Homo sapiens: one gene and its partners. The protein of the gene in region 5 interacts with the protein of the main gene of each other region in a biochemical or structural test. Each region holds a gene or a part of one and is shown on either strand. Other genes may lie near its edges. The genes, in order: PBK, SLC22A3, FAT3, RAB9A, GRIP2, SLC2A3 and KCTD3.

Region 1 (2,997 bases), on a different chromosome or scaffold from region 5:
GGTCCCTTTCCCTTTTCCTTGACATAGCAATCATGGAAGCATAGAAATGGTACTTCTCTCAGCCTAATATTGTTCACAAAATGAAGAAATTCAGGTCTAGAAGTGATCTGCTCAAGGTCACGCAGCTTGCACACACATGTCTTTGAACCAACCCAAGCAAGGCAGTCTGGCTCCAGAGTCTGTAATCTCAACATCCACATTCTATATTCCTACTAATTTGTAAGAGAATTGCTGTTTCTCTACATACCTGCCAACTGACCAGCTTCTTGAATATTTACCAACCTGAAAGGTAGAAAGTAATCCTTATTGAGGTTGAGTGTATTTTTACATTTTCTGGCTACACTGATTAACCTGTGAACTACTTGTTCAAATCGTTCGCCTGTTTCCCTTTGGGTTGCTTGCCTTTTCGTGATTTGTAGCTCCTGCCTTCATAACCATCTTGCTTGTTTCAGTGACTGACCCTGAGGCTTGTTACATTGGCACAGAGCCATGGAAACCCAAAGAAGCTGTGGAGGAGAATGGTGTTATTACTGACAAGGCAGACATATTTGCCTTTGGCCTTACTTTGTGGGAAATGATGACTTTATCGATTCCACACATTAATCTTTCAAATGATGATGATGATGAAGGTATGAATACAATTTCTAACATAAATCCCAATCTCTTCATTTCACACTAAAGATTATATAATTTTATCTTTCTAAGATATGTATTAGTACTGATGACTGATTTGGTACCACCAAGGTTTAATCTCACACAAATGAGACATAGATTGAGAATAGGGAGAAAAATTGAGGCTATCCAGAGAAGCAAAACATTATCTTAAAAACTCCCCTTTCCTGAGAAAATGATTGATTGGAAAACTATCACAGGAAGGGTAAAAGTAGGGGTCGATAACCTATAAATCCAAGACTAAAGCAAATCTACTTGATGGCAGGACAATTGAAGACATTTCCATTCTGTCTGTGGCAGAATGGAAAGCATACTGGACCATAAATTCTTGTTTCAGGAGAAGGGTGAGCTATTAAACTTTTCCATGACATAAAGTGATTTTGTTTATTGTTTCAATCTCTAACTCCTTCAAGATAAAACTTTTGATGAAAGTGATTTTGATGATGAAGCATACTATGCAGCGTTGGGAACTAGGCCACCTATTAATATGGAAGAACTGGATGAATCATACCAGAAAGTAATTGAACTCTTCTCTGTATGCACTAATGAAGACCCTAAAGATCGTCCTTCTGCTGCACACATTGTTGAAGCTCTGGAAACAGATGTCTAGTGATCATCTCAGCTGAAGTGTGGCTTGCGTAAATAACTGTTTATTCCAAAATATTTACATAGTTACTATCAGTAGTTATTAGACTCTAAAATTGGCATATTTGAGGACCATAGTTTCTTGTTAACATATGGATAACTATTTCTAATATGAAATATGCTTATATTGGCTATAAGCACTTGGAATTGTACTGGGTTTTCTGTAAAGTTTTAGAAACTAGCTACATAAGTACTTTGATACTGCTCATGCTGACTTAAAACACTAGCAGTAAAACGCTGTAAACTGTAACATTAAATTGAATGACCATTACTTTTATTAATGATCTTTCTTAAATATTCTATATTTTAATGGATCTACTGACATTAGCACTTTGTACAGTACAAAATAAAGTCTACATTTGTTTAAAACACTGAACCTTTTGCTGATGTGTTTATCAAATGATAACTGGAAGCTGAGGAGAATATGCCTCAAAAAGAGTAGCTCCTTGGATACTTCAGACTCTGGTTACAGATTGTCTTGATCTCTTGGATCTCCTCAGATCTTTGGTTTTTGCTTTAATTTATTAAATGTATTTTCCATACTGAGTTTAAAATTTATTAATTTGTACCTTAAGCATTTCCCAGCTGTGTAAAAACAATAAAACTCAAATAGGATGATAAAGAATAAAGGACACTTTGGGTACCAGAAGGTGTCTCAGCATTATTTTATACTTCATTGATTTGAGTGTTGTCATTAAACTTGAGTAAATGTGAGGTTTCTTTCCCTCTCTTGGCCTTATTTTGCTAATCTATAAAGTGTTTTGGATCAGTAGTTTCTGTAAGCCACAGTCCCCTGGGAATTTTCCAAATTACTGAATTGCCAATGTAGGTGGTATACCTACATTTGGGTGTAGACAGAATTTTAAAAATTACCGACACAGGGCGTTCTCAGAAACATTAGGAACAACTGCACTCTGAACTTTAAAAATGCCTAGAAATCACTGAAGGCCTTTTGGTATAAGATTGTACCAAGCAATAGGACACAACATTAATTTGCATATATTCCATCAAAATAATGTGACAAGTAAATTGGAAGTTGTCTTAATTTGTAGAAAAACGTATGTATAATTTTGCATCCTGATACTCAATAGGGTCTCTTATCCTCACTCTGACATGTGTCACTCTTCTTTGCCAAGCCAACAGAGCAGCTTCTCCAGGGCATTCTTTTCCTAGCAGGAATAGCAGTTCCTGCTTTAAGACTTAAAGCAGGAACTGGATCTTTCTTGAATTGGCTCTTTAATACATAAGCCATTGCTTTTCATTGAGAAATTTATTTCCACTTCCTACAGTTGAGATATCTAATAGGAATAAACTAATACCAAGGACAAGACCAGCAAATTCACAGCCCTTGTCTATGGTAGACATTACAAAATAATCCCAGCATGCACTGCCCCTTGAGTCTGGTGAGGTCCTAGAAATCCTCAACACAAGATTGCAGACAATCTGCTACCAACTGGAAGAAAATTTTTTTTATTCTTGTTCTAGAACTTGCTCTAAGTCTCAGATGTTATCTTTTTGGACATTTGCCTCATTCTCAAAAGAGCAACATGTGACTTGGCTGAGGGCTTTTTTTTTTTTTTTTTTTGAGACAGGGTCTTGCTCTGTCACTCAGGCTGGAGTACAGTGGGGCAATCATGGCTCACTGCAGTCTCAACCTCCCAGGCACAAGTGATCCTTGCA
Region 2 (4,150 bases), on a different chromosome or scaffold from region 5:
ACAGACATTTATGCTCTCAGGGGTGTGGAGGCTGGGAGTCTAGAATCAAGGCATCCAAGGGTGCTTATGTCCAGAGGTTCTGGGGAAGGGTCTCTTCATGCCTCTCTCTGGCAATCCTTGCAGCTCCTTGGTGTCACTCCTATCTCTGCCTCCATATTCACAGGACATTCTCTTCTCTGCTTGTGTCAGTGTCACCTTGACTAATTACATCTGCAAAGACCTTATTTCCAAATGTAGTAGCCTTGAGGTTCCAGGTAGACATGAATTTTGGGAGACACTGTTCAACCCACTACATGGAATTAACATATTATAAGAGTTGGAGGATCTGTACAATAGCTATCTCTTAATACGTATCTATTTAGTATCGACTAATTGCCAGCCACTGAACTAGGAGGGGAATGGAGAGGTGAACAAAATAGACATAATTCCTGCCCTCAAAATTGTATAATTTAAGAAGAGTGAAAAATCGCAAACATTGGAGACGTTACTGTTCTATTTTACTTTGGTACTTTGGATATAACATACAACTGTAGCTCCCTGAGATGAAGTCTTCTGTTCTCATCGTATGTGGACTAGGAATGAATGAAATATTCATTGTATATGAAATTAGAAATGCAGCGAGAAAGATGCATGCTTCGGTGTGTCCCCTCATTTCATGATATATATATATACTTTACTCTATAAGATTTTCTCTGGTCCTAGATTGATTGGGATGACTTTAATGTTTGTTGCATTCAGAATGACCCCAGAAAGCATTCAAGGCTGTGTGTCCAAATCAAGACAGAAGTAACTAGCCGGATAGTCATATAACTATTTTGTAGAGAATTCTTTCATATATTGGAAAATATAACACCAAGAACAGACTGTTCTCCCTTGTCTAACCAGTTTTATTTTATAGATATAATTTCCTGATTGAAGCTTTAGAATTGTTCTCAGCAAGACTGAAAATGAATTGCTCTTATTCTAGACACATTTTATTTTTACCTTCTGCAGACTTGGCTGCTTTTATAGTCATATGTCAGTCATGACTGACTGGCAAGAATACATTTCAAATCCCTAAACTGAGTTCCAAATATTAACAGACGATCCTCCCTTGAGTCCTTCCAATTTAAAGACCCATTGGACTTGATTCCAGCCACTGGTTAATTAGCACGAGAAAGGCTTTTCTGCTCAGCCATTCCTGACGTCAGTAGTAGGTCGCCAGCCCCTGGGGAGAATACAGATGAGCTTTTGGAGAAACCAGCTCTAAAATAGTCTCACAGCAAACACTTTAATCAGCTTTCCCTCCACTCGACCCAACTTTTCATGGTCTAAAGAATGGAATTCTGGAAGAAGAAATAGTAGTTCTGGTTGTATTCTCATCTCAGACTCACTGCTTCTAGTCCAAATTTCTTAACACTCATTAATGTCTGGAAAATAAAGACCTTTCTTTATCCATACCTGTCTGCCATCTTTAATTTGAGTTTATTTAGGATGACCACAAACCTAGCAGTTTGGATAAGTCGTCTTCTTGAACTGGAAAACTTGTCTTCCACTTTTATTTTTCTTTAATTGAAAAGTGAGTTCATGTATCTTAATTTAGACATTTCTACTAGAATTTCTCACTAAACTTTATTTCAGAACTCAGAGTAGATGATCCATTCAGAGGACATATAAAGTTTTGTTTAAGTCCTGCATCCTTTCTTCAGGAATTGAGGTATTATTCCCAATCATCTCTAGTAGCTTGACCAAATCCACATTCAGAAGAAAACATTTTCTTTGTTCTCATGTAATTCCATGGAAGACAATTTTAGTTTCAGTACTCATTTTTAAATTGCCCTGTGGTTTTTGTCATTGCTACCAAAAGATGTCTATGGCCACCTCAAAATGAATTTAGCTTATTACTGGAATCAAGAATTTCTTTGTGTGTATATATTTATTCATACTTCCTACAGTTTTCTTTTCACTCTTTAGTTAATGAACCATGCAATGCCTTAGAAACTTTTCTTTGGTTACACATTTCAACAAAATCTCTGTTCCAGTATAGTTTGATACTGGACTCTACTGCTTGGAAAAGAGTTGGGAGTCTTTCAGATTAAGGTCAATGTTCCGGACAGACCACATCTCCACAAATGGGGCAACTTGGCATTTTCTGAATGTTTTACTGAATTGACTGGCTATTTATCTGAGTTAACCACATATGTTTATCATGGTGGAGTGTGTGTGTGTGTTTTAATTTGGTCTCTGGCTTTTGTTTGGATTTTTCCATGAAACACCTTGCCTCGGTTATAAACCCAAATTGCCCTTGAATTTGTCGGTGGGACTCAATTTTAGAGCAATCTTGATTTAGTGAAAAGAAACATACAATGGAAGAACCCAACCTGGATAGTGAAGCTGTTTCCTAGGTAGCAGGCAGCCTTCACTGCAGCCCGGGAGTGGCAGGAGATGGTCCCATCGGGCTGGGACCCAGGGAATCTGAGTCTCTGCTCCCACTTTCCCCTTCCAGTACCACATGCTCATTGAAAGATGGAGTGGAATGCATTACCTAGTCTCCACTCCCCCCTTTTCTTGGTCTTCATAAAGAAGCAAAGCCTAAATAACACATGTTGACAAACCTTCTGCTCCAGAGCAGACAGTGGCCCAGCACATCAGCACAACCCTGGCCTCCTCACTGCCTGATATAACCGTTAACGTGACAGCTACAAGGGTTCTCATGTGGGAAAAACATCAAGTGCACCAGGATGTCCTTGGCCAGTTTGCAGTCAAAATATGTAAACTTCAGACTCCCAGAAATGGTTTGGATTCTTGAGCCATCTTTTCCTTACACCTGTGCTCCTGGGCAATTGTTTTATTTAATGAATTTTAGCTTTTTTTTTTTTTTTTGACTTGGCTATTCTCTAGAGAGAACACACAGAAGTCTACTGGGCTTGATTCTCTTCTTTCATCCTCCTCATTCATTTCTACTAAAAAATTATATATTCAGGAAGGTTCAATAATTCCCCTAGGAAACAGGAGGACTATTTAGTGCTAAATGAACATATGTGTTGGATATAAAGGGAAAATGAAAGGCACATGAACACTGGACATGCTTCGTTTTGCTTTGGAGAGCAGATATGGTCTTGTTCATGCAGACATATGTCCTCAATACCAAATCCCCTAGGAAAGGATGACATCAATTGCACAACTTCTAGGAAAGCTAGAGCAGTGACTTTTTAGAGTAAAAATGGTTAACTCCTCTGCCCTTAAAACATAAAAGAAAGAAAATATTTAATATAGAATGTTTGGCATTTCCCACTAGTTAGTAGGGAGGAAAGGAAAATTTCTTCATACAACCAGAGCAGTCCTAAAACAGTTCATTTTAAAATGGACGAACCAATTAGCATTGATGAATGTGGCTCCTTCTGGATGGTTTATTGAAGGAAGTAGTACAATGGGGGATGAAGAAGACAATGAGTGACATTTGCCTTAGTGGTAACACACAGAATAGATGTCCCCTTCCAAAGATCCTGGTCCTCAAAGCTTGCTCCACTCTAGAAACCAAGGTCAGCTCACGTGAGGAACTCCCCAGGTGTGCTGGGAACGGCTATTCCTTGTGTCACCACCGCAAGGTATGCACAGAAAGGACAGCTGGGCACCAGCTGTGGGAACGTGGTGGCTCAAAGGCATGACTGGAAACTACCACCTGGACAAAAAGCCAGTGTGCTTTGGCTCTCTAGGAGGTCATTGCCTGGAACAATGTTCCAATGTAGTGGCTGCTCATGCTCAACAAACGGTTCTTGAATTGTACTTCCTATAATCCAACCTGCTCAGAAAGGCATCTAGCGCTCTAAAATATTAGCTATCATCTAGTTTCATTGTTGTTGAAATTTGGTTACATTATTAGAAAGTTCTATCATTTGTGCTTAAAATTGGCAAAGACTTCAGACTGGAGGCCACTAAGCAAATACTTTTTGTTGTTCTGTAAAATGTTAATGAAATCAGACCCCTAACTCCTCCCTTTCAAACTTTCTGTGTTTGCAGGAATAGCATGGTTGAGGACCACAGTGGCTACATTGGGAAGACTAGGGATAACCATGGCCTTTGAAATTGTTTATTTGGTAAATTCAGAATTGTACCCAACAACATTACGGTAATTCTAACAAACGTTATAGTTTCTCCTAAGTAACTCTGT
Region 3 (4,150 bases), on a different chromosome or scaffold from region 5:
ACTAAATTTAATCTGTGTCATCTGGCATACTCTTAGATGTTTACAATTATCAAATAATGTTCAATGATATTTAGTAGCATTAATAATTTGGGGCTTATCTCAAAATATAAAACATCAATAGCTGCTCCAGAGTGCTCACTTTTTGACCTTCCATGGTACTGAAAAGGCTACAATTTTTTTCAGATTGTTTGGAATTTAATTTAGTTGAAGTCCTGAAGTTACAATTAAACTTCCACTTAACCTTTCATAACTGTGCCTCATTCAACAGCTGGGCTTATCTCCAACATCTCAAAAAAGAAAAGAAAGAAAGAATTAACTGAAATATTATTTGCAACTGCTCTGAAAAGTACAAGTAGGATCAAGTCATAGAGAACGTCCAAGGTAAAAGTCTGCCTTTTCACTCACATTCTGGAAGCTAATGTTACTTTGTAAGCCATTTTTTACAAATTTTTTTAAGGTAAAAAACCAAGCAACAGATCTAAATGATGAATACCTAAAGGACAGAACACTCTGAGGTGTTCTGTGACAAAGTTAACCTTGAGATTCATAACTGAGTCTCAAACATAGGAAAACAGAGGACTAAGAATACACCATGTGCACCTGCATGCAGGCTCCCAGACACATTCAAAAATCCTAAAAGTTACCTTTGAAATTGGGGGGTGGGAGACCACAAGGGGATAGTGGAGAAAGGACATGAATAAATTCTGAAGTCTTCTCAAAATATTAACTAACATTCCGACAGCCCATTTGGGCTGCCCCATGAATACGTTCTTCCAAAAAGGAGCTCTGCACTGCCCCCTGACAAATGAAGGAATTAATTTATTTCATAGTGCCTTGCATACATTAGGGCTGTAGTAAGAATTATTAAATGGAATTATATTCACTTTAATAACTTACACTCCTCTTAAAAGTTTACTCCACCTCACATTAATCTCTCCCTCCTCCTTGAGGCTCCTGTTCATAGACATTCTTTTGTCAATTAATAAACATTTTTAGATGTGACTTCTAGTGTACACACACAGGCATCTCTCATTTTCTCAATAAACAGCACGAAGCAGAAGCAATGGATATATTTTACTATTCTTTGAATCTTGCCCACTGTCTTGTGAAAGAGGTAGATTCAGTAAATATCGCTGAAAAGAACTTTAAAATAATTTTTTTAAAAAATAAATAACAGGGCTGAGGACGGTGGCTCATGCCTCTAATCCGAGCACTTTGGGAGGCCGAGGTGGGTGGATCACTTGAGGCCAGGAGTTCGAGACCAGCCTGGCCAACATGGTGAAACACCCTGTCTACTAAAAATATAAAAATTAAGAGGGCATGGTGGTGTGCGCCTGTAATCCCAGTTACTCGGGAGACTGAGGCATGAGAATCACTTGAACCCAGGAGGCGGAGGTTGCAGTGAGCCAAGAACACGCCACTGCACTCCAGCCTGGGCAATGGAGCGAGACTCTGTTTCTAAATAAATAAATAACAAAAATAAAATAGGGAAAATAGAGGAGAAAGCAAGACATTTTTTAAAGACAAAAAATTATTTTAAATTCCATGTGACTTTACAGAATTTTAAAAAGGGATATATTTCAGATGTACAAAGGCAAAAGTTAAAGAAACAACTTTCCTTTATTAAAGAGTCTATAATTCACAGTTTTGGAACCCTGGAAGAGCAGAACGTTGAAATACTAACAACTGCTCAAGGACTCCTCTCAGGGTCCTCTGTATGACTTTTCCGCCCACGGTAGGCAACACCTTCAATAATGCATTGTTCAAGGAAGGACAATGCTGTGGCCCTCCTCACACCTCCTCTAGGCTCTCCACATTCATATATATCTATCTGGTGAAGGAAGTAATATTTTGTTTATGTGAAGAGTTTAATTGATTAAGTTCTGAAATCTGTTTTCTATTTTCTATCATCATGCCAGTTAATCCATTCTCAAATTTTCATCCCTTCCACTTAGCAGAAAAAAAAAAAAAAAAAGAAAAAAAATCTAAGTCCTGGAATATGCTAAAATTAAGACTAACCTGAAAATGCCATTCCAATTCAGAACTGCTAGAATGGGTCATTTGTCACTATTACATGTAACTGATAGCCTATTTTGGTAGACCAGAAACTGGCTTGAAGCCACTAGACAAGTGTCAAATATGTTCTCAATAAATGCAGTCTGTGTCATTAAGCTGAATTTCTTTTTCAAGGAAAGGCAGTCTTTCCTGAAAATTATTCTTAGAAATTTGGAGAAAGGGAGGCAATGTAAAAAAAAACAAAAAACAAAAAAAAAAAAAACACGAAAAAACAAAAAAAGAAAACAAGGAAAGGAATAAAGCTTATTAAAGGAGTAGATACCCTGCAATTGACAGAAAACTCAGTAAGTTTGAGAAGCCTGTAGAATTAAATCGACCAAAACACAGAAAAGATATTTACTCTCTGAGTCTTCCCAGAGAAAGTTGTCACACTGTGGTGATCCTCAAGAGGTCAGGATATATTAAAAAACAAAGACCCACTCCTCACAATTTGGGTAGAAAGATGATGAAAATGACATATTCAACAGTTAGAGATCAAAAAAGCATTGCAGAAAATTTCACCAATAAGTAAAACTGCATACACAGGAGTTGTGCTTCCTTTAATATTTTTAAGACCATGCATATCTGTAGAAATCAGAGGCTCTGCTAACTCTAGGAAGGAATTGGGCAGAACACAAATCCTTCACTCTAAGTCTGTCAGATCCCTTTCTTTTAAATTTCCATTCCAATTCTAATGTTTGCCACAATCAGCAAAGAAGTGGTTCATCAATAGTCCTTCTTCAGCAATCAAAGGAAATCAATTCAAATGGACAGGCCCACCTGCTCCCATCAGATGATTCCCTACTCAAGGCTCCTGCAGAAGGAAAAAAAAGAAAAACCTGGGGATGACCCCACAATGGAAAAAAAAATCAAATATCCTCATTACTATCTTTCTCCTTCTTGCCCTAGAGGAAAAAGCCAACCCACCAGGCAACTGGACAGATGTGGGCTATGAAGGAATGCCATACCCCAATGCCACAACTGGTAAAATAAAGCCACAATAGTCCTTTATGCTTTGTGAGCTATTAATATAGCATAACAACGCAACAGCCACCAGGAGCACTCCTCAGACCTGCTGGTAATGACTAAATACCCTCTCCTGCCTGGTAATTGCCTACTTCTTTCTATTTGACATAATTCATCAGCCAGATTAGCTAAGGTCATTCAGGATCGTATGAAGAAGAAAGCAGGGATGATAACATAACCTGACACATCAAAATGTTCTTCTGTGAGCAGCCTGAAGAGCCATAGCTTTACAAAGGCTGTGGGCTAGCAAAATAACCGTATAGCATACAGGTCAGTGGGTATCCACTGTTTATTGCTACTCATTTCATTTTTGAGTAGCTCAGCACAACTGTAATTGCTAGTTAACAGACAGACTGGGTCCTATTAAAAAAATCCCCAAAATGACTCCGCCAGAGACCAGAATAAATAAAATTTGAAAGAAAGATTTCTAAAAGGCTTGAGAGCCAGTCGCTGGTCAACAAACCCTGGCTGTGAAAATCCTGCAGCCACAAGAGATGGAGCCAGCCCAGCAGCTGACTGATTTCTGATCTCTGAGCCAGCTGCCTTTCATGTGGAGTTCTCTGTGTGATTCAGATGATATGAAGACATTATAACTGGACAGTTCTGGGAACTTTCTCATCCCAGTGCACTGTGCACAGAAACTGGCCCCAGCATCACTCATTGTTCAAGTTCCAAAAAGGCAACAACTGAGATTCATGATTGAATATCAACATTCGGTTTAATTCTAAGAGACAACTTTTCTCCTTGTAAAATGTTAAAAAAAAAATAAAAAAAACTTCCCCCACTCCAACCCTATTAAATAAGAAGCACATCAAAGTGCTAAAGTTATTATGCTTTTTTTTTGTCTTTGTCTCTTAGAGCCCTGGTTTCCTTGGCTGTTCCTTATTCTCTCACTGTTCAATTGCTCCAATTTAGGAATAAAGAAAAAAAAAAAAAAGAAGAAGAAAGAAAAAAAGCAGAAGCAGTTGGCTTTGTGCAATTTCTAGGATTCTGAAGAATCTCAGTCTCTCAAATCTCTTCTCTCTTCTCTCCTCCATCCCCTCCTCCCTTCCTTTCCTTCTCAGATTCA
Region 4 (4,150 bases), on a different chromosome or scaffold from region 5:
GCTGCTTTCCGCATTAGGTTTCATTGTCTCTTCACTCTGTCACTCCCGGACCATTTGCTTTCCACTTTCTAAATTTTGTTGCTGTCTTGCATCTACAGTTGTTCTTTCTTGGTGTCCTTTTTGGATTTGTACCTTACGTAGACCTTTTCTGTCACTGGGTGGGAGTGAAGATAACACATACTTGACCTGCCCTATTTAGTTAGACCTGGGGAAGTTTGTGGACTTCTGTTTATTGATCTATAAAACATGGATGATAGTGTCCAACTTGCAGGTAATTTTAAGGTGCTATATGCCAGGTACCTAGTAGATATTCAGTTAATAGTGGCTGCTAATATAATTACAGCCATAGCATTTATTATTTGAGCAAGCAAGGCAATAGCAATAGGTAGTGCGAAAAGTGGACATATTTCATGTGTGGCTGAATGAAGTGCGTAAGAGAAAAGAAAGAGATTTTCGAAATGGAGAAAATAATTAGCTCAGTTTTAGATATGTTGAATTTGAACTACCATCAGGGTACCAGATGAACATACTATACAAGGGGTTGCAAATTCTTGTCTGGCTCAGACATGCGGATGTAGACTTTAGGAATCACTGGTTTTTATAGCCCAGGGAGATACCATCTGGAAACAGGTAAGGGTTTCAGTCTCGTGAAATAGCTTCATGAAGAGCTTGTCAGGAAAGGGAGCTGTCTATGTTGAAGAAAGCTAAGGGGCCAAGGAGGAGAGAAAGCAGAACCTATTATCAGAGTGGTTTTATGGACAATTAGGAAACATTTTCAAGAGGATTACTGCCAGGCTGTTTGGACCTGATAGAAGCAGTAATGGGTGGTAAGTCCTGGCTCAGACTTGAAGGTCTCCCCTGTGCCTCTAGCTAGATGTGTGATCCTGTGTAAGACACTTTCCCAGTTAGACCTGTTTCCTTATTTGTTTTTAAAAAACACTTGAGGCCAGGCACGGTGGCTCACACCTGTAATCCTAGCACTTTGGGAGGCCAAGGAGGGAGGCTTGCTTGAGCCCAGGAGTTCAAGACCAGCCTGGGCAAGATGGTGAAACCTTGTCATTACAAAAAAAAAAAAAAAATTAAAAAAAAAATTAGCCAGTCTTGGTGGTATGCACCTGTAGTCCCAGCTACTCTGGAGGCTGAAATGGGAGGATCACTTGAGCCCGGGAGTTTGAGGCTGCAGTGAGCTATGATCATGCCACTGCCCTCCAGCCTGGGTGGTAGAGAAAGACTCTGTCTTTTAAAAAAAGAAAAAAGACTTGGGTACCCTTCCAAGATTTTAGTTCATGCACATTCAGACAGATGGCTACACCTGAGAGAATTCACTATATACTAGCTGGGCCTCAGGTGGAGATGCTGGTCAAACTTGCAGGTGTTTTCTAGAAACATACACAATGAAGTCCTGAGAGAAGAACTTTTCCCTGTATTCACCTTAGGGTTGTATGTGCCGTAGGGCATTCAGATGAGGACTGAGAAAAAGCCATTGGATTGGCCATTAGGAGGTCTTTGGTGACTTTTGCTGACAATCAGGGGGAAAGGATGGGGTGGGAGCCCTGGTGTCCTATAAACTGAGCAGAGAGTTAATCAGGTTTGCAGGCACATTGAGAAATGGGTAGTGATGGGCAGAGTGAGGTTGGGCTTGGAAAGCTTTTTGTGAGAAAAGTCAGTTTCAACACTTCGATAGGGGCAGACCTGGGGGGATCATTGACAAAGTGACAGTTACATTGGATAAACTGAACTTGATGAAGAGCTGCCTGCAGTGTTGAGCTGGTGACAACTTCCCTGCAGAGTGGTATTTGGGAGCCTCTAGTCTAGTCGAGTCCTATATACCGGACATAGCTGCCCCTCTTTAAATATATCTTCTTAGGAAATCCTCACTCCTTGTAATTAACTTCTCTAACAGTCGAGAAGTTTCCTTTTGCTGTGGCTCCATGCCTTGTGGAGCCCCTCACTCAGTGAGTTTGTATAGTTCCCCAACCCCTAGCTTTGTCTGCTGTAAATTAAAGACATTTGGTTTCTTATCGAACTGGAAGGGAGGCCTCAGAACCAATGTTTCTTTAGGTGATAGCAGAACGTTGCAGATCATTTTTGATTTGTGTTTTGCTGCTTTAATATATTTTTCTGACATATATGTTCAAATTCATTCCTTTCATAATTTGTTTTTCTTCCTGAAATATCTACCTTTAATTCCCCATGTTCTCATCTTGTGACTTTTATCTATGTCTTTGCATTTTAATTCTGTCTTCCAAAGTGCACTCTATTGTCAAAAAGTATTGTAAGTACCTTTTACAGGTAAGTGTCATCGCAGGTAGATTTATGCTTGGTTCTTAAAACTTAAGCAAAACAAAAAAAAATTATTCTCACTTCTCAGGACTAGCAGTTTCCCATGAGTAAGGCTGTTCACTGAACTATCACAGTTTATGGTCAAAGTGTGATATTCATAAAAGTCTCATGGGTGAGGGAGAAAAAGAGGAAATTCTGCTAAAGACAGAAACTCTTGAAGGGTGTTATGAGCTACAGAAATGGATCACACATAACATACAAATGATGCAGGCATGTAGCAATCAGTTCTTGGTGTCCAAACTCCTTAAGATCTGATGAAACATTTTTTGTTCTTTCCAGAAAAAAAGCGCAAGCACACAAGCTTCCACCAATGCTCTCATCCTTATTTCACATGTGATTCTAGGGAGTGTATTTTCTCCCTGAAGCTCATTTCATGGACTCCCAATTAACCACACTCTAGGCCTGCACTGTCCAACACAGTTCCCACTAGCCTCATGTAGCAATTTAAACTAGTTAAAATTAAATGAAAAATTCAGTTCTTCAGTTAGACCAGCTACTTTCCAGTGCTCAGTAGCCACATGTGATTAGTGGCTACCATATTGGACAGTGCAGATTATAGAACATTGTCGTCATTGCAGAAGGGTCTGTTGGATTTTGCTGCACTATATAGTTTCATGATGGTTTAAGATTTAGTTCCTTAACTAAGTCTTCTTTTTCTTTTTTTTCTTTTTTTTTTTTTTTTTTTTTTTGGCCCTTCTCACTTCCTCCTTTCCCACTCCCCCCACCACTGTTAGTGATTAGTTAACATACCTACAGAGGTGCCTTGTTTTAAGAAAAATGTTAACATATTTCTTAAAAGTTAAGTTAGCTGATTCAGCTTCAAAAAAAGTTACTTAATTGAAATAAGTTCTTTCAATAGGGGAGGTGCTCTGACATAGCGATAGTATGGTTTGATAATACAGTTTTTCTCCTCTAGCTGCCTCCTGTTCTTGAGGTAATGCTCAGTGATTAACTAGATAGGACTAGATAATTTATTTCACCTTGGCAGGTCTTGCCTCCAAGTTGGCCTATTCCTATGGTATTTCCTTTTCTTTCTTTTGCTTCTTCCTGCACACTAAGTATGGTATTTTCTGACAGTATTTTTCTTAATTCTTTATTTATTTTTCTTGGTAATTTCTTGCTGTAGAGCTGGTACCCATTAGACATAATGACTTTCCTTGACTTGCTTCTTGCTCATAAATTTCTGTAAGACAATCAGGAAGTTTTTAGAAACAAACAGTGGAACCAATTAGGCTGTTAAGTGAGACACGCCTAAATTAAGCTATGAGGAAATAAATACAGCTCCAGCAAAAATAGAAATAATTTTCAGATTATCCATGCTTTTGTTTCCCTGGTTTTCTTTGAACCTCATTTCCTCAAGCTATGAAGTGAAATGAAGTGGTAAGTACACCTCTAAGTAGGACATTCAGGGTGAATCCAAAGGAACTTGTGAATTTGACCAAAAAAAAAAAAAAAATCTGTTCCTAAATTTAAACCAGGAGTGATAAATTCATTTTAAGTTTTTGGAGGGGTTACAGAGTATGTGTTTTAAAATCTCAAGTTTTGAGAAGGCAGTTTACAAATGATGCCTGCTCTCCCTTTGGCAGCTTATTAAGGAATGTAGTCGTTTTTCAGCATTTGCCAGCTCCCTGTCGCAGTCAGTCAATAGTACTTATTTTAAAGTGGGATTCTCATTGGGATTGCAAGTAAGAATCAATGTTTTTGTTCCTACCCACACATTTTAATAGACCTCAAAAATAGAATGCGGGGAGAACTGATAGAGAAACAAAGAATTTTAGGTACAGAAAGCACAAATAGAATAATAATA
Region 5 (4,150 bases):
TTGAGCTCGCTCCCAGGGGCAAACAGCAGCGGGAGGAGACTCACAGCTGATGGTGATGCCCAGCTCCACGCTGCGCTTCTTGGGCAGCTTCACGTGGAAGGTGCCACTGCTTGGGATGACGGACTCTGGGGGTAGATGGACATAAACCGACGTGAGGACCCAGAGGAGGAGCCTCAGCGAACCCCAGCCCCATGCCCATTCTGGCTGTGCTGGGAGTGACCCCGAAAGTCACAGTTCTAATCTCATCCCCCTGCTTCCTCTCAACAGAGGAGGAAACTGAGGCAGAGTGAGCTGACAGATTTGCTCAAAACAACTGACCTGCTCTAGTCAGACCAGAGTCGGGGCTGGAACCAGGCCTCTTGGCTGTCGGCTAGTGTGGCGGGCGGGAAGGGAGCTCCCCACAGCCTAACAACCCAGTGTGAATCTAGCACATATTTCCTGAGCACCTACTATGTGCCAGGCCGTGGCTGGGTATTTTCATGTTTTCATTTCTCTTGGGCATATGCCTCACCTAACCCAAGTACCGCCCCTATAGTGAAAAGATCGTTATCAACTATTTACGGATGGGGAAACAGTGGAGGGAGTGTCCTGTCCAAAGCCACACTGTGTTGAGGTCACAGAAGCAGAATTCTGACCCAAACTGTTGTTCGAGGTTCTTTGCCTAACCCATGCTGAGAAGGAGCTTGGAGTATTTTCAGCTCCCCAACCCCATCCCCACTTGGTCCTGCCCCTCTGCAAAAGTCTCCTGGTGTGGAAACTTCTCCCTCCCGTGCCAAGGCTTCCCTTCCCACTATAAGCTGCAAAGCCCCTGGGAGAAGGGCACTGGGCACAGAGGGGGATGGGGTGGAGCGTTTGCACAGGCGAGGCAGGATAAAGAGAGGAGGGGTGCAGGGCCCTGAAATATGAGGAGGAAGCTTGGGCCACTCACTCACCCGCCACATCGAACTCCACCTCCAGCACGACCTTGTGGGCCAGTGCGGCGTCCCGCAGGAGCTGGTTGGCTTCCTCCATAGTCCCGTCCTCGGTGGCAATGCCATTGATGGACAGGACACGGTCCCCCACCTGCAGCAGCCCACACCTGAACCCAGGGGGCCCGGCAGAGAGAAGAGGCTCCGTGACAGGTCCATTGGGAGACAAGAACGCCATGCAGGGCAGGACTGAACCTGGGTCACACCTCCTGGTCTGGGGTGACTCTCAGCTCTGCCCTGGCCCACCTGTGTATCCTCAGGAATCTGGCTAAGGGCTGGACCTTGCTGGACCTCAGTTTCCCTGTCTGTCCAATGGGGATGATGGCATGGGCCTTACAAGTTGTGTATACAGAGGACTCTGCCTTCAGGCAGACAGGGGTTCAAGCCCTGGGATTCCATGGGTGAGCTGTGTAATCCTGGGCAAGTGAGTCAGCTTCTCTGAGCCTCGGTTTCCTCATCTGTAAAATGGGGCTGGTGCTGGGGCTGATGCAATGGTTAAGTGAGATGCGCTTGTGAAGCTAGGGCTTGGTGCTGTGACTCAGTTTCTCTCAGAGAGTGGCAGGCTCAGTAGGGAGGGGGCAGGAGGCTCACCTCTCAGCCGGACTGTCAGGCTCGATGAAGCACACGAGGGGTGGGGAGGACAGGGTCTCGGTGGCGAAGATGCCGCCCTGGAGCTGGAGGCCAAAGCCGCTGAGGGGGTCTCCACAGAGCACGACCTCCGTGGTCTCCGTGTGCACAATCTGCCCGCCCGGCCCCACCGTGCTGGAGGCTAGCGACACTGTAGGACAGGTGGGCCCAGCATTCAGGTGAGCCGCCCCACGGAGGTCTTCCTGCCAGGGCCTGCCCATCCCGGGGCCCTAGGCACTGGAGCCAGAGTGCAAGGAAGTGGGAGCCCTGACTCAGTCTGGGACCAGACAGATCACAGCTCACTCTGAGCCTTGGCTTCCTCATCTGAACAATGGGATCGTTGATTCCCACCTCGTGGGGTGTGGCAAGGACTAGGGAAGACAGTGGCTGGGATTGACTGTCATGCTGTAAAGCAGGTTCTGGGGGGCAGTGTCATTTTATTGTATTATTGTGCTGTGATCTACTGTAGTATCTACTATATTATGTCACTCTGCTTTTCGGTAAGAGGTTTATTGAGATATAATTTACATACCACAGTAGTCACCTATTTAATGTGTACAATTCAGTGGTTTTTAGTGTATTCACAATTATGCAAACATCACCACGATGCATTTGAGAACATTTCATCACCTCCAGAAGAAACCCTGTTCCCTTCAGCCATCCCCAAAGATCTTCCTATGTCCCTCAGCCCTAGGCAACCGCGAATCTACTTTCATCTCTGCATTTGCCTGTTCTGGGCACTTTATATAAACAGAATCATGCACCATGTGGCCTTTGTGACAGGCTGCTTTCACTTGGCATAATGTTTTCAAGTTCATCCACATTTTGCAGGTGTCAGAATTGCATTCCTTTTTGTGGCTGAATAATATTCCATTGTATGGATACACCACATTTTGTTTATCTATTCATCCATTGGTGGATACTGCGTTCCTTCCACTATTTGGCTACAGTGAATAATGCTACTATGAACATTTGTGTATAAGTTTTTAGGTGGAGATGACACATGTTTTCACTTCTCTTGGGCATATACCTAGGAGTGGAATTGCTGGGTGATATGGCAACTCTATGTTTAACTATTTGATACATAAGGTTATTTAATAAATATTGTTTTACATTCCATATATGAAATATATTTGCATCATTAATATGAATCCTGAAAGTCATTTATTATTTATCAAACAAAATTTATTTGGTATTTCATTACTAATTATATTATTGTGTCATATTATATTATTAAATTATATTGTATATTATACATTACAAAATGTGTAATATGTTATGTTTTTAGGTATATTGTGTTTTTATATGTATTTATTTATTTATTTTGAGACAAAGTCTCACTGTGTCGCCCAGGGTGGAGTGCAGAAGCGCCACCTCGGCTCACTGCAACCTCCGCCTCCCGGGTTCAAGCGATTTTCCCACCTCCAGAGTAGCTAGGATTACAGGCGTGTGCCACCATACAAGGCTAATTTGTTGTATTTTTGGTAGAGATGGAGTTTCGCCATGTTGGTCAGGCTGGTCTCGAACTCCTGGCCTCAAGTGATCTGCCCACCTCGGCCTCCCAAAGTGTGGGGATTACAGGCGTGAGCCACCATGCCTGGCCTATTTGTTTCTTTTCACTACTATGTCCCCATAGTATGTACATTCAGTACTATGCCCCATAATTAATTAATTATAATTAATTAATAAATTACTATCAACAGCAATAATGATAGTACTTTCTTAGTTACACATCCCAGGAAGGAGACAGGCAGAGGAGTCGCAAGAGCCTCCAGTCTCCACATCCCCCACCTACGAACAGCATTTCTGCATCTTTTCATCTACATATTCCCCACTTTGGTGGCCAGGAAAGGTGGTTAGTAGAGATATATTTTCTCTCTCATCTGACTGAAATCTGTTTCCCATTTCCCTTTGGCTGCCAGGGAGTGTAGAACCATATTTAGCTTTTTTCAGACACCAGGTGACCTGTACTCCTCTCTTCTTTCACCTGGTTCTATCTCAAATGGCCCAGTTTGATCTTCTATCCTTCCTGGAGGCCTCTGCAGCTCATGTGGCAGGAGGCTGAGAACCCTTTCTGCATCAACAAAGGAAAGACTGTTCCCAAGAAGGGTTTCAAAATTTTAGGCATTATTGTGTTTTGCCACTTCCACAGGGCTCCTGCCTTATCATTCACTACTTTTGTCTTCTATTGATTTACTTTTCTTAACATGTAAATATCTTTATTTCAAAAGGGCAATTTTGAACAATAAATAAGCAGAGAAGTAAGACTGGAAATTATTACATTCTGGACAGCTAGAGTCTCAGGCCATGTCTTTGTCTTAGGGGAAATTAACAAATGGCAGAGAGGTGGTAAGGATATAGTAACGCAGCACTGAGGCTTTATCCATGAATGAATCAGGACTGAATGGCAAAAAATGTGAAAACTTCATGCACATCTGAAAAGACTTCCTTTCCTCAAGGACGTTATCACCAAATCCTAGGAATTTTTCATAATAAAAATACAAGAATAAAAGTGTACAAAGTAACTGGCACCTCTCAGTGGTCCTCTTGAGCAG
Region 6 (4,827 bases), on a different chromosome or scaffold from region 5:
ACACTTTTCTTTCAAGAAACTCACAGTCCATAACTAATAGGATATTAATAATCTTTTCCAGTTATGTGAGAATTACTTGCCCTAGTCCCTTTTTATACTTTATAAAAAGGGAAGAAGGGAAACACTATAAATGACTTGTGGGTCAGAACTCTTTTGTCCTATTATTCTTTTTTTTTTTTTTTTTTGAGACGGATTCTTGCTCTGTCGCCCAGGCTGGAGTGCAGTGGCGCTGTCTTGGCTCACTGCAAGCTCCGCCTGCCGCGTTCACGCCATTCTCCTGTCTCAGCCTCCCGAGTAGCTGGGACTGCAGGCGCCCGCCACCATGCCCGGCTAATTTTTTTTTTTTTTTTTTTTTTTTTTGTATTTTTAGTAGAGAATGGTTTCACCGTGTTAGCCAGGATGGTCTTGATCTCCTGACCTCGTGATCCGCCCACCTCGGCCTCCCAAAGTGCTGGGATTACAGGCGTGAGCCACCGCGCCCGGCCTTTTTTTCTATTATTCACTGAAGAATCACCAGCTTCTTGGAGAGTACCTGATACATAGCGTGTATTCGGCAAATACCTGCTTAATTGAATTCGGTATTTATTGCATTTCTAGATGCTATAAGCTTGAGACTAGCAGAAAGTGATGCAGAATTCAGAATGGGTGATATGGCAAATGCCTTATTAAATATAGGGCTCGGCGCGGTGGCTCACACTTGTAATCCCAGCACTTTGGGAGGCCAAGGCGGGCAGATCACAAGGTCAGGAGTTTGAGACCAGCCTGGCCAATATGGTGAAACCCCGTCTTTACTAAAAATACAAAAATTAGCGGGGCGTGGTGGCGGGCGCCTATAGTCCCAGCTACTCGGGAGGCTGAGGCAGGAGAATTGCTTGAACCCGGGAGGCGGAGGTTGCAGTGAGCCGAGATCGCACCACTGCACTCCAGCCTGGGCGACAGAGAGAGACTCCATATCAAAAAAAAAAAAAAAAAAAAAAAAAGGATATGGATTGTATTCCATAAACAGTTGAACCTCTTATTCCTACTGCCCTGATAGTTGGTCTGGCTCCTAGAAATTCAGATTTTCTTCCCTCCAGGTGAGATTATGCGAAGAAAGGAACACTGGCAAAATTATTTCCCTGATTTTCTTCTCTCAGGCTGTCTTTCCCTCCCCTTTAAGATTGTGTACTCCGTCTCAAAAAAAAAAGAAAAAAAAAAGATTGTAGACCCAGCCTATAAATTCATAGGATCAAGAATTCTTACTAACACTCTTTCTAACAACCTTAAATCTCTGATAGTAGCACCCACTTGACTTCGTTTTGTATGGATAGATTTATTCTAATCTCTCTGTAGATTGTTTTAATCCCAAGCAGATGCGAGAGCATAAAATAGTGTATTTGCCCTCCCTCCAGGCTTTTCTGGTAGTATTTTGTCTGTGAAACTAAGAGGCTCTAGCTGCTATTAGAAGAGGGAAGGAGTAAGGATGAGCTTTTGAAAAAAAAAAAAAAAAAAAAACCCAGGGTGGAGAGAGTGGAAGGATGTGGTTTTAAGAGAGGGGGGAGGGAGGGCGTTATTGTCTGTGGGGCGGGGGCGGGGGTAGTTCTGATAACACAGAATTCCGAGAGATCACAAGATTGCTTCAGGGGGGTGGGGTGGGGTGGGGTGGGGCTGGGGGCTTGTCGCCCTTTCAGGCTCCACCCTTTGCGGAGATTATAAATAGTCATGATCCCAGCGAGACCCAGAGATGCTGTAATGGTAAGACTTTGGATCCTTCCTGAGGACGTGGAGAAAACTTGCTGCTGAGAAGGACATTTTGAAGGTTTTGTTGGCTGAAAAAGCTGTTTCTGGAATCACCCCTAGATCTTTCTTGAAGACTTGAATTAGATTACAGCGATGGGGACACAGAAGGTAAGAATGATATAATTACTGGTTATTTTTGCTTGTTTGGGATACACTCAGAAAGGCAAATATTAATGGTAATCTCCTTGTTCTATTTTCTCCTAAGTCACCAAGCTATCTTAAGGCCTTTTCATTTCGTCTCTAGCCTGCACTGCTGCCGCTTCATCAGTTCTCTTTGAATGTCATACAGTTCTGTTCACCTTATCATAGGAAAGTCACCCGGAGAAGTTGTGTTTGCTTCTCAGGTTTATTTTAGGTAACCATATGCCACTGAGGACGAGATGGTTGAGTGTTTAGAGGATCGGGCTGCTTGGTTGTATGGATTACAAGTGTGGGTCTCAGAGCCAGTGTGAAGACTTCTCTGGAAGCATTAGACCTTGAAAAGGTCTGTGTTTGGAGGCACAGGCCAGGGTCTGGCCATCTGTTTGTCCTATAACATATGGGGTTCGTGGATGCTAAGGAGAAAGAATTCCAGTTGTCCTTCCTATTAGGGTTAAAATCGTGAGTGCAGGACATACTAAAATATTGAGTGTTGTATATGCATTATTTGCAGGGAGAAAGGCTTTTCTTTTTTTTCTGATTGAGTTTTACTCTTGTTGCCCAGGCTGGAGTGCAATGGAGCGACCGCAGCTCACCACAGCCTCCGCCTCCCGGGTTCAAGCGATTCTCCTGCCTCAGCCTCCTGAGTAGCTGAGATTACAGGCATGAACCACCGGGCCCGGCTAATTTTGTATTTTTAGTAGAGACGGGGTTTCTCTATGTTGGTCAGGCTGGTCTCGACTCCCGACCTCAGGCGATCCGCCGGCCTCGGCCTCCCAAGGTGCTGAGATTACAGGCATGAGCCACTGCGCGCAGCAAGAAAGGCATTTTTTACCAAGATAAATTTAACTAAAAATAAGGGGCCAGGTGTGGTGGGTCACACCTATAACCCCAGCATTTGGGAAACCAAGGCAGGAGGATCACATGAGGCCTGGAGTTTGAGACTAGCCTTGGGCAATATAGTGAGATCCCATCTCTACAAAGCAGAAAGAAAGAAAATGTAGGAAAATAAGAAAGGGATGGAAAATTATGAGACTAAAGAAGAAAAGGCTCTCAAAGATAGTGAATGATGAGAGGAGACAGAAGAGATTTTTACTAAACGGAAAAAGATTTAACAGAGCATTGCACTGGCAGGGCCCTCCGGGGTACCGATGCTTAGCTGGGACTGAGACATCTGGGAGGCTGCAGGCAAGGTCACTTCTCCTGCTGAAGCTCCCAGCCTGCTGCCTAATCTGCCCGACCTGAAAGGAAAGGAGTTTAAGATATGAAAGGTTGAAGGGATTTTGGGTGGTGGGGTGGGGGGGAATGGCGTAGAAGTTGGCCTCAGGTATAAAAATTGAGCTGCCCCAAGGTAGAAATGGAAAATGTCTCGCCCGGCTGAATTATTCCAGGCAAGGTGAAGATGACCGGTTCTCCCCACTAAGAAATGTCTCTTATATGTTGGGTTCGCCCTTATATGTTGGGTTCAGAGTAAGTACTTTCTTCCCCTGCGCGGGAGTTAGGGATAGCAGAACTGTATTTAATAAACGAAGACTGAAATGGGGCCAGGATGCAGTGAGTAGATCCAGTAGGTTACATGGTCCTGAGAGATAAGAGACTCAAAGAGCCACCCAGCAGTGAAGACACAAACTACCACCCCCTCCACCACCACCAGTGGGCTTCCGTGGAGTCTGGGGTACAGATCAGACTGCACTGTATTTGTTTCCAGAATGGTCAATTCTTAGTAATCCTACCCGAGACTGTCTTTTTCTCTGCCCTCCCAGTTCGTGAGTGGAATTCTATGCCTACATTTGCCTGATGCAAGTTTTTAAATATTTCCAAACTGACCAACCCAGTTTCTCTTAACTTCTTCCTTCCCCAATTTTCTTTCATTTTTACCAAGTTAACTTCACATTCTTATCTCCAGATAAGTTCTTTAGTATAATCTATTCCTTTGTCTTCCCCATTAATTACCTAAATCTCATTGGATGTTCTTTTCATACCACTCATAACTCAAATTCTCCTAATACAGCTCCATAATTAATAAGAAACAGTCATCAATCACAAGTTTTAAGGACTATTCTCTCCTCTGTCTTCCCTCCCTCCAGGTCACCCCAGCTCTGATATTTGCCATCACAGTTGCTACAATCGGCTCTTTCCAATTTGGCTACAACACTGGGGTCATCAATGCTCCTGAGAAGGTGAGTGCCAGGCCACAATAATTAGAATTTAGAATAGGGAAGTTATTCCTTTAAGTAGGGTTTCAGGAATTCAGAATTTAAGGCCAGGCATGGTGGCATCTGCCTGGAGTCCCAGCTACTCCTGAGGCTGAGGCTTAAAGATCACTTGAGTCCAGGAGTTAAACACCATCCTGAGCAACACAGTTAGTGAGGGTCCCTCCCCAAACTAGGGGATTTTAAGACAAACTTTGTATCTATCCTGTCCAAGACTGAAGATGGAGACAATATTGGTGGGGAAAATTAGTGGGGTCATCTAATCGAAGCACAAAGCTCACTTACTCCCGGAACGCTGGGCGGTGCTGTTCTTCCTCCCACTCTTTCACCTCATAGTGATGCACATCCTGTATTATCCCTTAGGGGTTAGTTACAAAGAAGCTGGGTTCCCTTAGCAGAGGGCTGGGGTAGACTGTGAACATCGGTGCTGCCACCTACTGGGATTTTCAGGACAAATAGAATTACTATTCCAGCGAGAGTTAACATAAATTCCAATACGTTATCTGCCCCTTCCATTCCTGTCTATTTATTCCCTTGATTCTCTAGGAAGGAAATGATCCCTAATGTTTGTCTTTTGTTCTCATCCAACTGTAACAGTCTGTTCTTCCACCAACCCTTTTATTTTGCAGATCATAAAGGAATTTATCAATAAAACTTTGACGGACAAGGGAAATGCCCCACCCTCTGAGGTGCTGCT
Region 7 (4,150 bases), on a different chromosome or scaffold from region 5:
GGTTCTAATTTTTTCTAAGTGATATTAGCAAAGATACAAAATAGTACATATATTACTGGTTTGAACAGTTTACAAGACATGAAATTGTTAGTGGGAATGGAAACATTAAAAAACTTCAGAAAATTGTTAAGATAAAATGGCTTATAAAATAAGTAGTAATGGTATGGCCCGTAGAAAACAACATCCGACTCCATATTCTAAGAATATTTTCTAGATTTGCTTTGAATCCTACACTCGTGCAGCATTTTAGAGCTAGATGAGATCTAGAAGTCACCTGTATCTTGTACAAAACACAGTGTAACATAGTCACTTAAGCCACTGTAAGAGAAAAATCCTGATATGATTGCCACTGAAGTTCAGGAACTGCTGTGGCATAGAATTGAAGTTCTGAAGTGATAGAGTAAAACTCAAAAGGAGAGTTTGTTGGGAGCAGAGAAGCATATGCTATCGGTAAGGTCTTTTTTTTTTTTTCCCTCAGGAGAATAGACATGAAAATGGATATACTCAAAGGAATTATAGAAATGACTAATTTTTATGGTTTAATACTTTGTGGGTGATTCAGAAAGTAGAGTAGATGAAGTTTCATTTAGAATTGTTAGTATTCGTTATTTACAAAAAGTAATGAAGTGAATTCACTATGACTGAATTTATGATTAATTCTGTTATGGGCAAGTGTGATTTTGGGCCTCATGCAAGAGGGCTGGGACTAGCCATTGAGGACTCCTGGACAAAGAGCTTTTGAGTCAGGTATATGTTTCCAATTCCCAGGCTTTATCTCTAACTAGCCTAGCAACCTTGGACAAATATTTTGATACTTAGTCTATTAAAATGTAAAGTGACAGACAGTAGTACCAATCTTATCAGATTGTTATAGGAATTTGAAGTAATAAATGTGAAATGCAAGGGTTAGTGGCATTATCAGTACTTACAGTGCAGAATAAATAACTAGTTAGATTGCTACCAAGTTAATTTAGTAGGAGGCAAGTTGCATGAAGTATAACTGTGGGTATGCAAATTTCTTTAGTCCTTTGCTGAAACCAGATTGTACATGACTCTGTTCTTGGGACACTATGGGTATGGGATAAAAAACAAATCAAAACAGAAAAGGCTTTCAAATGATTATGCTCATCATGTGTAATTTTAAGTGTGTTAGTTTTCATGAAGTTATATTCGAGACTGGTTTTGGGGCCAGAAGTTTAAAAAAAAATTGGTGGGGATGAGGGTCTAATTCCTTTGCCCAGAAATTCCAGGTTACTAACCTTTCCCCAAAATGCTGATTAAAATTGAAACTGATAATATGATTTTAAGCAGACCTTTGTGATTTTCTAAGTAGCACATAATTTTAATTATTTGGAATACAATTGGTGAATAAGTGGTGAATATAAAAGATTGCAAGTTATAAGCTGTCCTCATTTGGAATGAATTTGATGGCCTCCAAAACAGTGAATCTGCAATGTATGAATCCTTGGATCCTTCAATTTACCATTGAGTGGATTTGCTTTGATTTTGGACCAAGTCAGTTTTCTGTGACTGGGGTAATCTGTGTATTTTTTATTTTTCTTAAGAGTCTATTAAGAAACGCATTTAGGAGCATTTGCAGTGTTTTCTTAAAGTGACTCATTTGTTAATCAGATAAATGGGCGTAGGAACTGCTTATAAACACCTAGACTGTCCATAACCTGTGAAATTAGTTAGTAGTCAACTTCTATGTGTTCCCTAAAGTACCCCTTACTGTAGTTTACATTTAAATGTCTTTAATAAATGAATTGTTTTACTGTCTTTCCTTCAGTTAGCCAATGAAAGAATACTTTTCCTTACAAATTGTAAAGTTGTATGTGGGAAGAAGTGGAGATAAACTTTTTTTTTTTTTTTTTCCGAGACGGAGTCTCGCTTTGTCGCCCATGCTGGAGTGCAGTGGCGCGATCTCAGCTCACTGCCAGCTCCACCTCCTGAGTTCACGCCATTGTCCTGCCTCAGCCTCCTGAGTAAGCTGGGACTACAGGTGCCCGCCACCACGCCTGGCTAATTTTTCGTAGTTTTAGTAGAGACGGGGTTTCACCGTGTTAGCCAGGATGGTCTCCATCTGCTGACCTCGTGATCTGCCCGCCTCGGCCTCCCAAAGTGCTGGGATTACAGGCGTGAGCCACCGCGCCTAGCCGAGATAAACTTTTAATTGTGATTGGAAAGCATGTTTTGATAATGATAGAAAATTTATTTTGGAGACTAAGGCACTTTTTATGGAACAGTGCATACACGGCTTCTGCTGTTACTGACACTGAGACTGATACTGCTAAATGATTTAAGTGGGCAGTTTAGTGACATCTGTGTGTCAACACCAGTGTATTCTGAAAGTGCTCTGTTGTAACCATAAAATGCCTGCAGATCGTACAGAAGAATCAAGTCTCCGTTTTGTACAGAACATTTAACTGAGTTTTAGAGTGTGATTCTGTTTATCACACATAAGTTTCAATAAACATTTACTGGGTGTGTGCTAGGTGCTAAGAACAATGCTTTTAGGTGGTCCTCTCTGGCTTTAAGAAAAAACAACATCTACTTTTTTAATACAAAATCCATTTCTGAAACTGAGTTTGAAAAGTGAATTTACAGATAATCCATTTATCAAGATATGTAAAATATTATGAGCCATTGTTGCCTCAGGTGCCTGGATGGACTTGCAAAGTTGAGAGATCTGTGAGACTTCTGACACTACTCTGTATAAGCCTTGGTAGTCACAGTCACCCTGGCCTGCAATCCAGTGCTATTTAATAGCCCACTTAGAAGATGGGAATGGGAAGTAGGATGTATTTTGAGGTTTGTTATGCTGCAGTGAGCATAATAAAAAAAAGTAAGCAACTTCCACGTTTTTGATAATTCCAGGCTGCTAATTTAGGTAATGGCAGACAATAGATGGATGATACAGTGTATACATGCACAGCCTGGGAAACATCCCTTAGCCATTTTGGCTGGGGTTTGGCCTGTGTTTCCTGGTGATAGTGCATGGTAACTAGTGCCACTATTCAGTCACCTTGTTTAGTTTAAGTATGAAAGGTAAAAATAAATTTAGGGATTTCATATAATGCCAGAAAATAAATGTGGAGTGAAAGTAGAGGTTTGCTAGGCTGGGTGAGATAACATTGTAGTTCAAGGTGATATCTTAAAATGAAAATACTCAGAGAAGGGCTGGACTGAACAAGTACTATATTGCTTTGTTTGCCATATCAGTTTACATAAATTATTGGTTTGTTGTCCCAGTCTATTATACTGTACTTTGGTAAAGATCCTCCCTTGGTAATATACAAGCTTGATCAAATGACAACCTCAGAACAGTGATGTATTTGGCTGAATGATTTTTGAATGAATGAAGTCAGCAGTTGCAGATAGCCCAAGACTGCCTATAAAGAAGGTGTTAAATGAGTAATTTACAGTGAAATTACTATGAGCTTAAAAAGAGATAATACAGGATTGGATATTTAGAAAAACTATTACAGGGAAGGTAAAACCTGAGTGGTATCAAGAAAGATGGACGGATCTTGAATTATTGGACATGAAGAGAGTGATCTAGCTGAATAAAGATACCAAAATGGTAGTAAGCATGAATTTTTTGGGGATATGAAGAAGTTTTGTCCTATTAGAGGGGAAAACCAGCATTTGTACTGGAGAGATGAGATGGAACCTGAAGGTAATTTTGAATGTTATACTGAGAAGTTGAGACTTGGTGTGATGGGCTAATTGTTGATTCTTCAGCAGAGATTAGCTTATTGGAAAGTAGTGTTTTAAGATGCATTATATGGCGGATAACAAGTTGTTTATTGTTATTGAGAGCTGCTTGTATAATCTTAACTCTGAATTGAAAGTAGCAACGTTTAAAAATATTAACTGTAATAAATATATTGGTACAGCTATAACTATAAAACATCTTGTAAATCATTAGCCAGTGTATTAAAACAAGTTAACTAATACTGAAATTTCAAATCATGTTCTCACTTATAATACCAGATGATTTTTAATTGCAGATTTAGTACCTCAAGACAAACTCTTATGTGGATTCCAGATTCTTTTTTTTCCAGGTATGTCTTATAATTCTTTAGTGTATATTTTAATACATTTATTTACCAAAATATAATAATGTTTGTCAGTTAAATTTTTTTTA

Evidence for each region.
Region 1: the proteins of GRIP2 (region 5) and PBK interact in a test that uses a peptide from one of them, tested with the Homo sapiens proteins (one large-scale study listed by IntAct).
Region 2: the proteins of GRIP2 (region 5) and SLC22A3 interact in a test that uses a peptide from one of them, tested with the Homo sapiens proteins (one large-scale study listed by IntAct).
Region 3: the proteins of GRIP2 (region 5) and FAT3 interact in a test that uses a peptide from one of them, tested with the Homo sapiens proteins (one large-scale study listed by IntAct).
Region 4: the proteins of GRIP2 (region 5) and RAB9A interact in a test that uses a peptide from one of them, tested with the Homo sapiens proteins (one large-scale study listed by IntAct).
Region 6: the proteins of GRIP2 (region 5) and SLC2A3 interact in a test that uses a peptide from one of them, tested with the Homo sapiens proteins (one large-scale study listed by IntAct).
Region 7: the proteins of GRIP2 (region 5) and KCTD3 interact in a test that uses a peptide from one of them, tested with the Homo sapiens proteins (one large-scale study listed by IntAct).

The regions. Positions count from the first base shown.
Region 1 is NC_000008.11:27,808,590-27,811,586, reverse strand, and holds the end of PBK (lymphokine-activated killer T-cell-originated protein kinase), read left to right. Parts: exon of another isoform or gene 1-419; coding exon of another isoform or gene 420-452; coding exon 453-629; exon of another isoform or gene 630-1,085; coding exon 1,086-1,282; 3' UTR 1,283-1,963; downstream 1,964-2,997. UniProt on the Homo sapiens protein: Phosphorylates MAP kinase p38. Seems to be active only in mitosis. May also play a role in the activation of lymphoid cells.
Region 2 is NC_000006.12:160,438,762-160,442,911, forward strand, and holds part of SLC22A3 (solute carrier family 22 member 3), read left to right. Parts: intron 1-3,999; coding exon 4,000-4,108; intron 4,109-4,150.
Region 3 is NC_000011.10:92,227,621-92,231,770, reverse strand, and holds part of FAT3 (protocadherin Fat 3 isoform 1 precursor), read right to left. Parts: intron 1-4,150.
Region 4 is NC_000023.11:13,695,182-13,699,331, forward strand, and holds part of RAB9A (ras-related protein Rab-9A), read left to right. Parts: intron 1-4,150. UniProt on the Homo sapiens protein: The small GTPases Rab are key regulators of intracellular membrane trafficking, from the formation of transport vesicles to their fusion with membranes.
Region 5 is NC_000003.12:14,512,733-14,516,882, forward strand, and holds part of GRIP2 (glutamate receptor-interacting protein 2), read right to left. Parts: intron 1,747-4,150; coding exon 1,560-1,746; intron 1,079-1,559; coding exon 933-1,078; intron 126-932; coding exon 45-125; exon of another isoform or gene 1-44.
Region 6 is NC_000012.12:7,933,080-7,937,906, reverse strand, and holds the start of SLC2A3 (solute carrier family 2, facilitated glucose transporter member 3), read left to right. Parts: upstream 1-1,719; 5' UTR 1,720-1,872; coding exon 1,873-1,887; intron 1,888-4,004; coding exon 4,005-4,097; intron 4,098-4,759; coding exon 4,760-4,827. UniProt on the Homo sapiens protein: Facilitative glucose transporter. Can also mediate the uptake of various other monosaccharides across the cell membrane. Mediates the uptake of glucose, 2-deoxyglucose, galactose, mannose, xylose and fucose, and probably also dehydroascorbate.
Region 7 is NC_000001.11:215,569,773-215,573,922, forward strand, and holds part of KCTD3 (BTB/POZ domain-containing protein KCTD3), read left to right. Parts: intron 1-4,013; coding exon 4,014-4,067; intron 4,068-4,150. UniProt on the Homo sapiens protein: Accessory subunit of potassium/sodium hyperpolarization-activated cyclic nucleotide-gated channel 3 (HCN3) up-regulating its cell-surface expression and current density without affecting its voltage dependence and kinetics.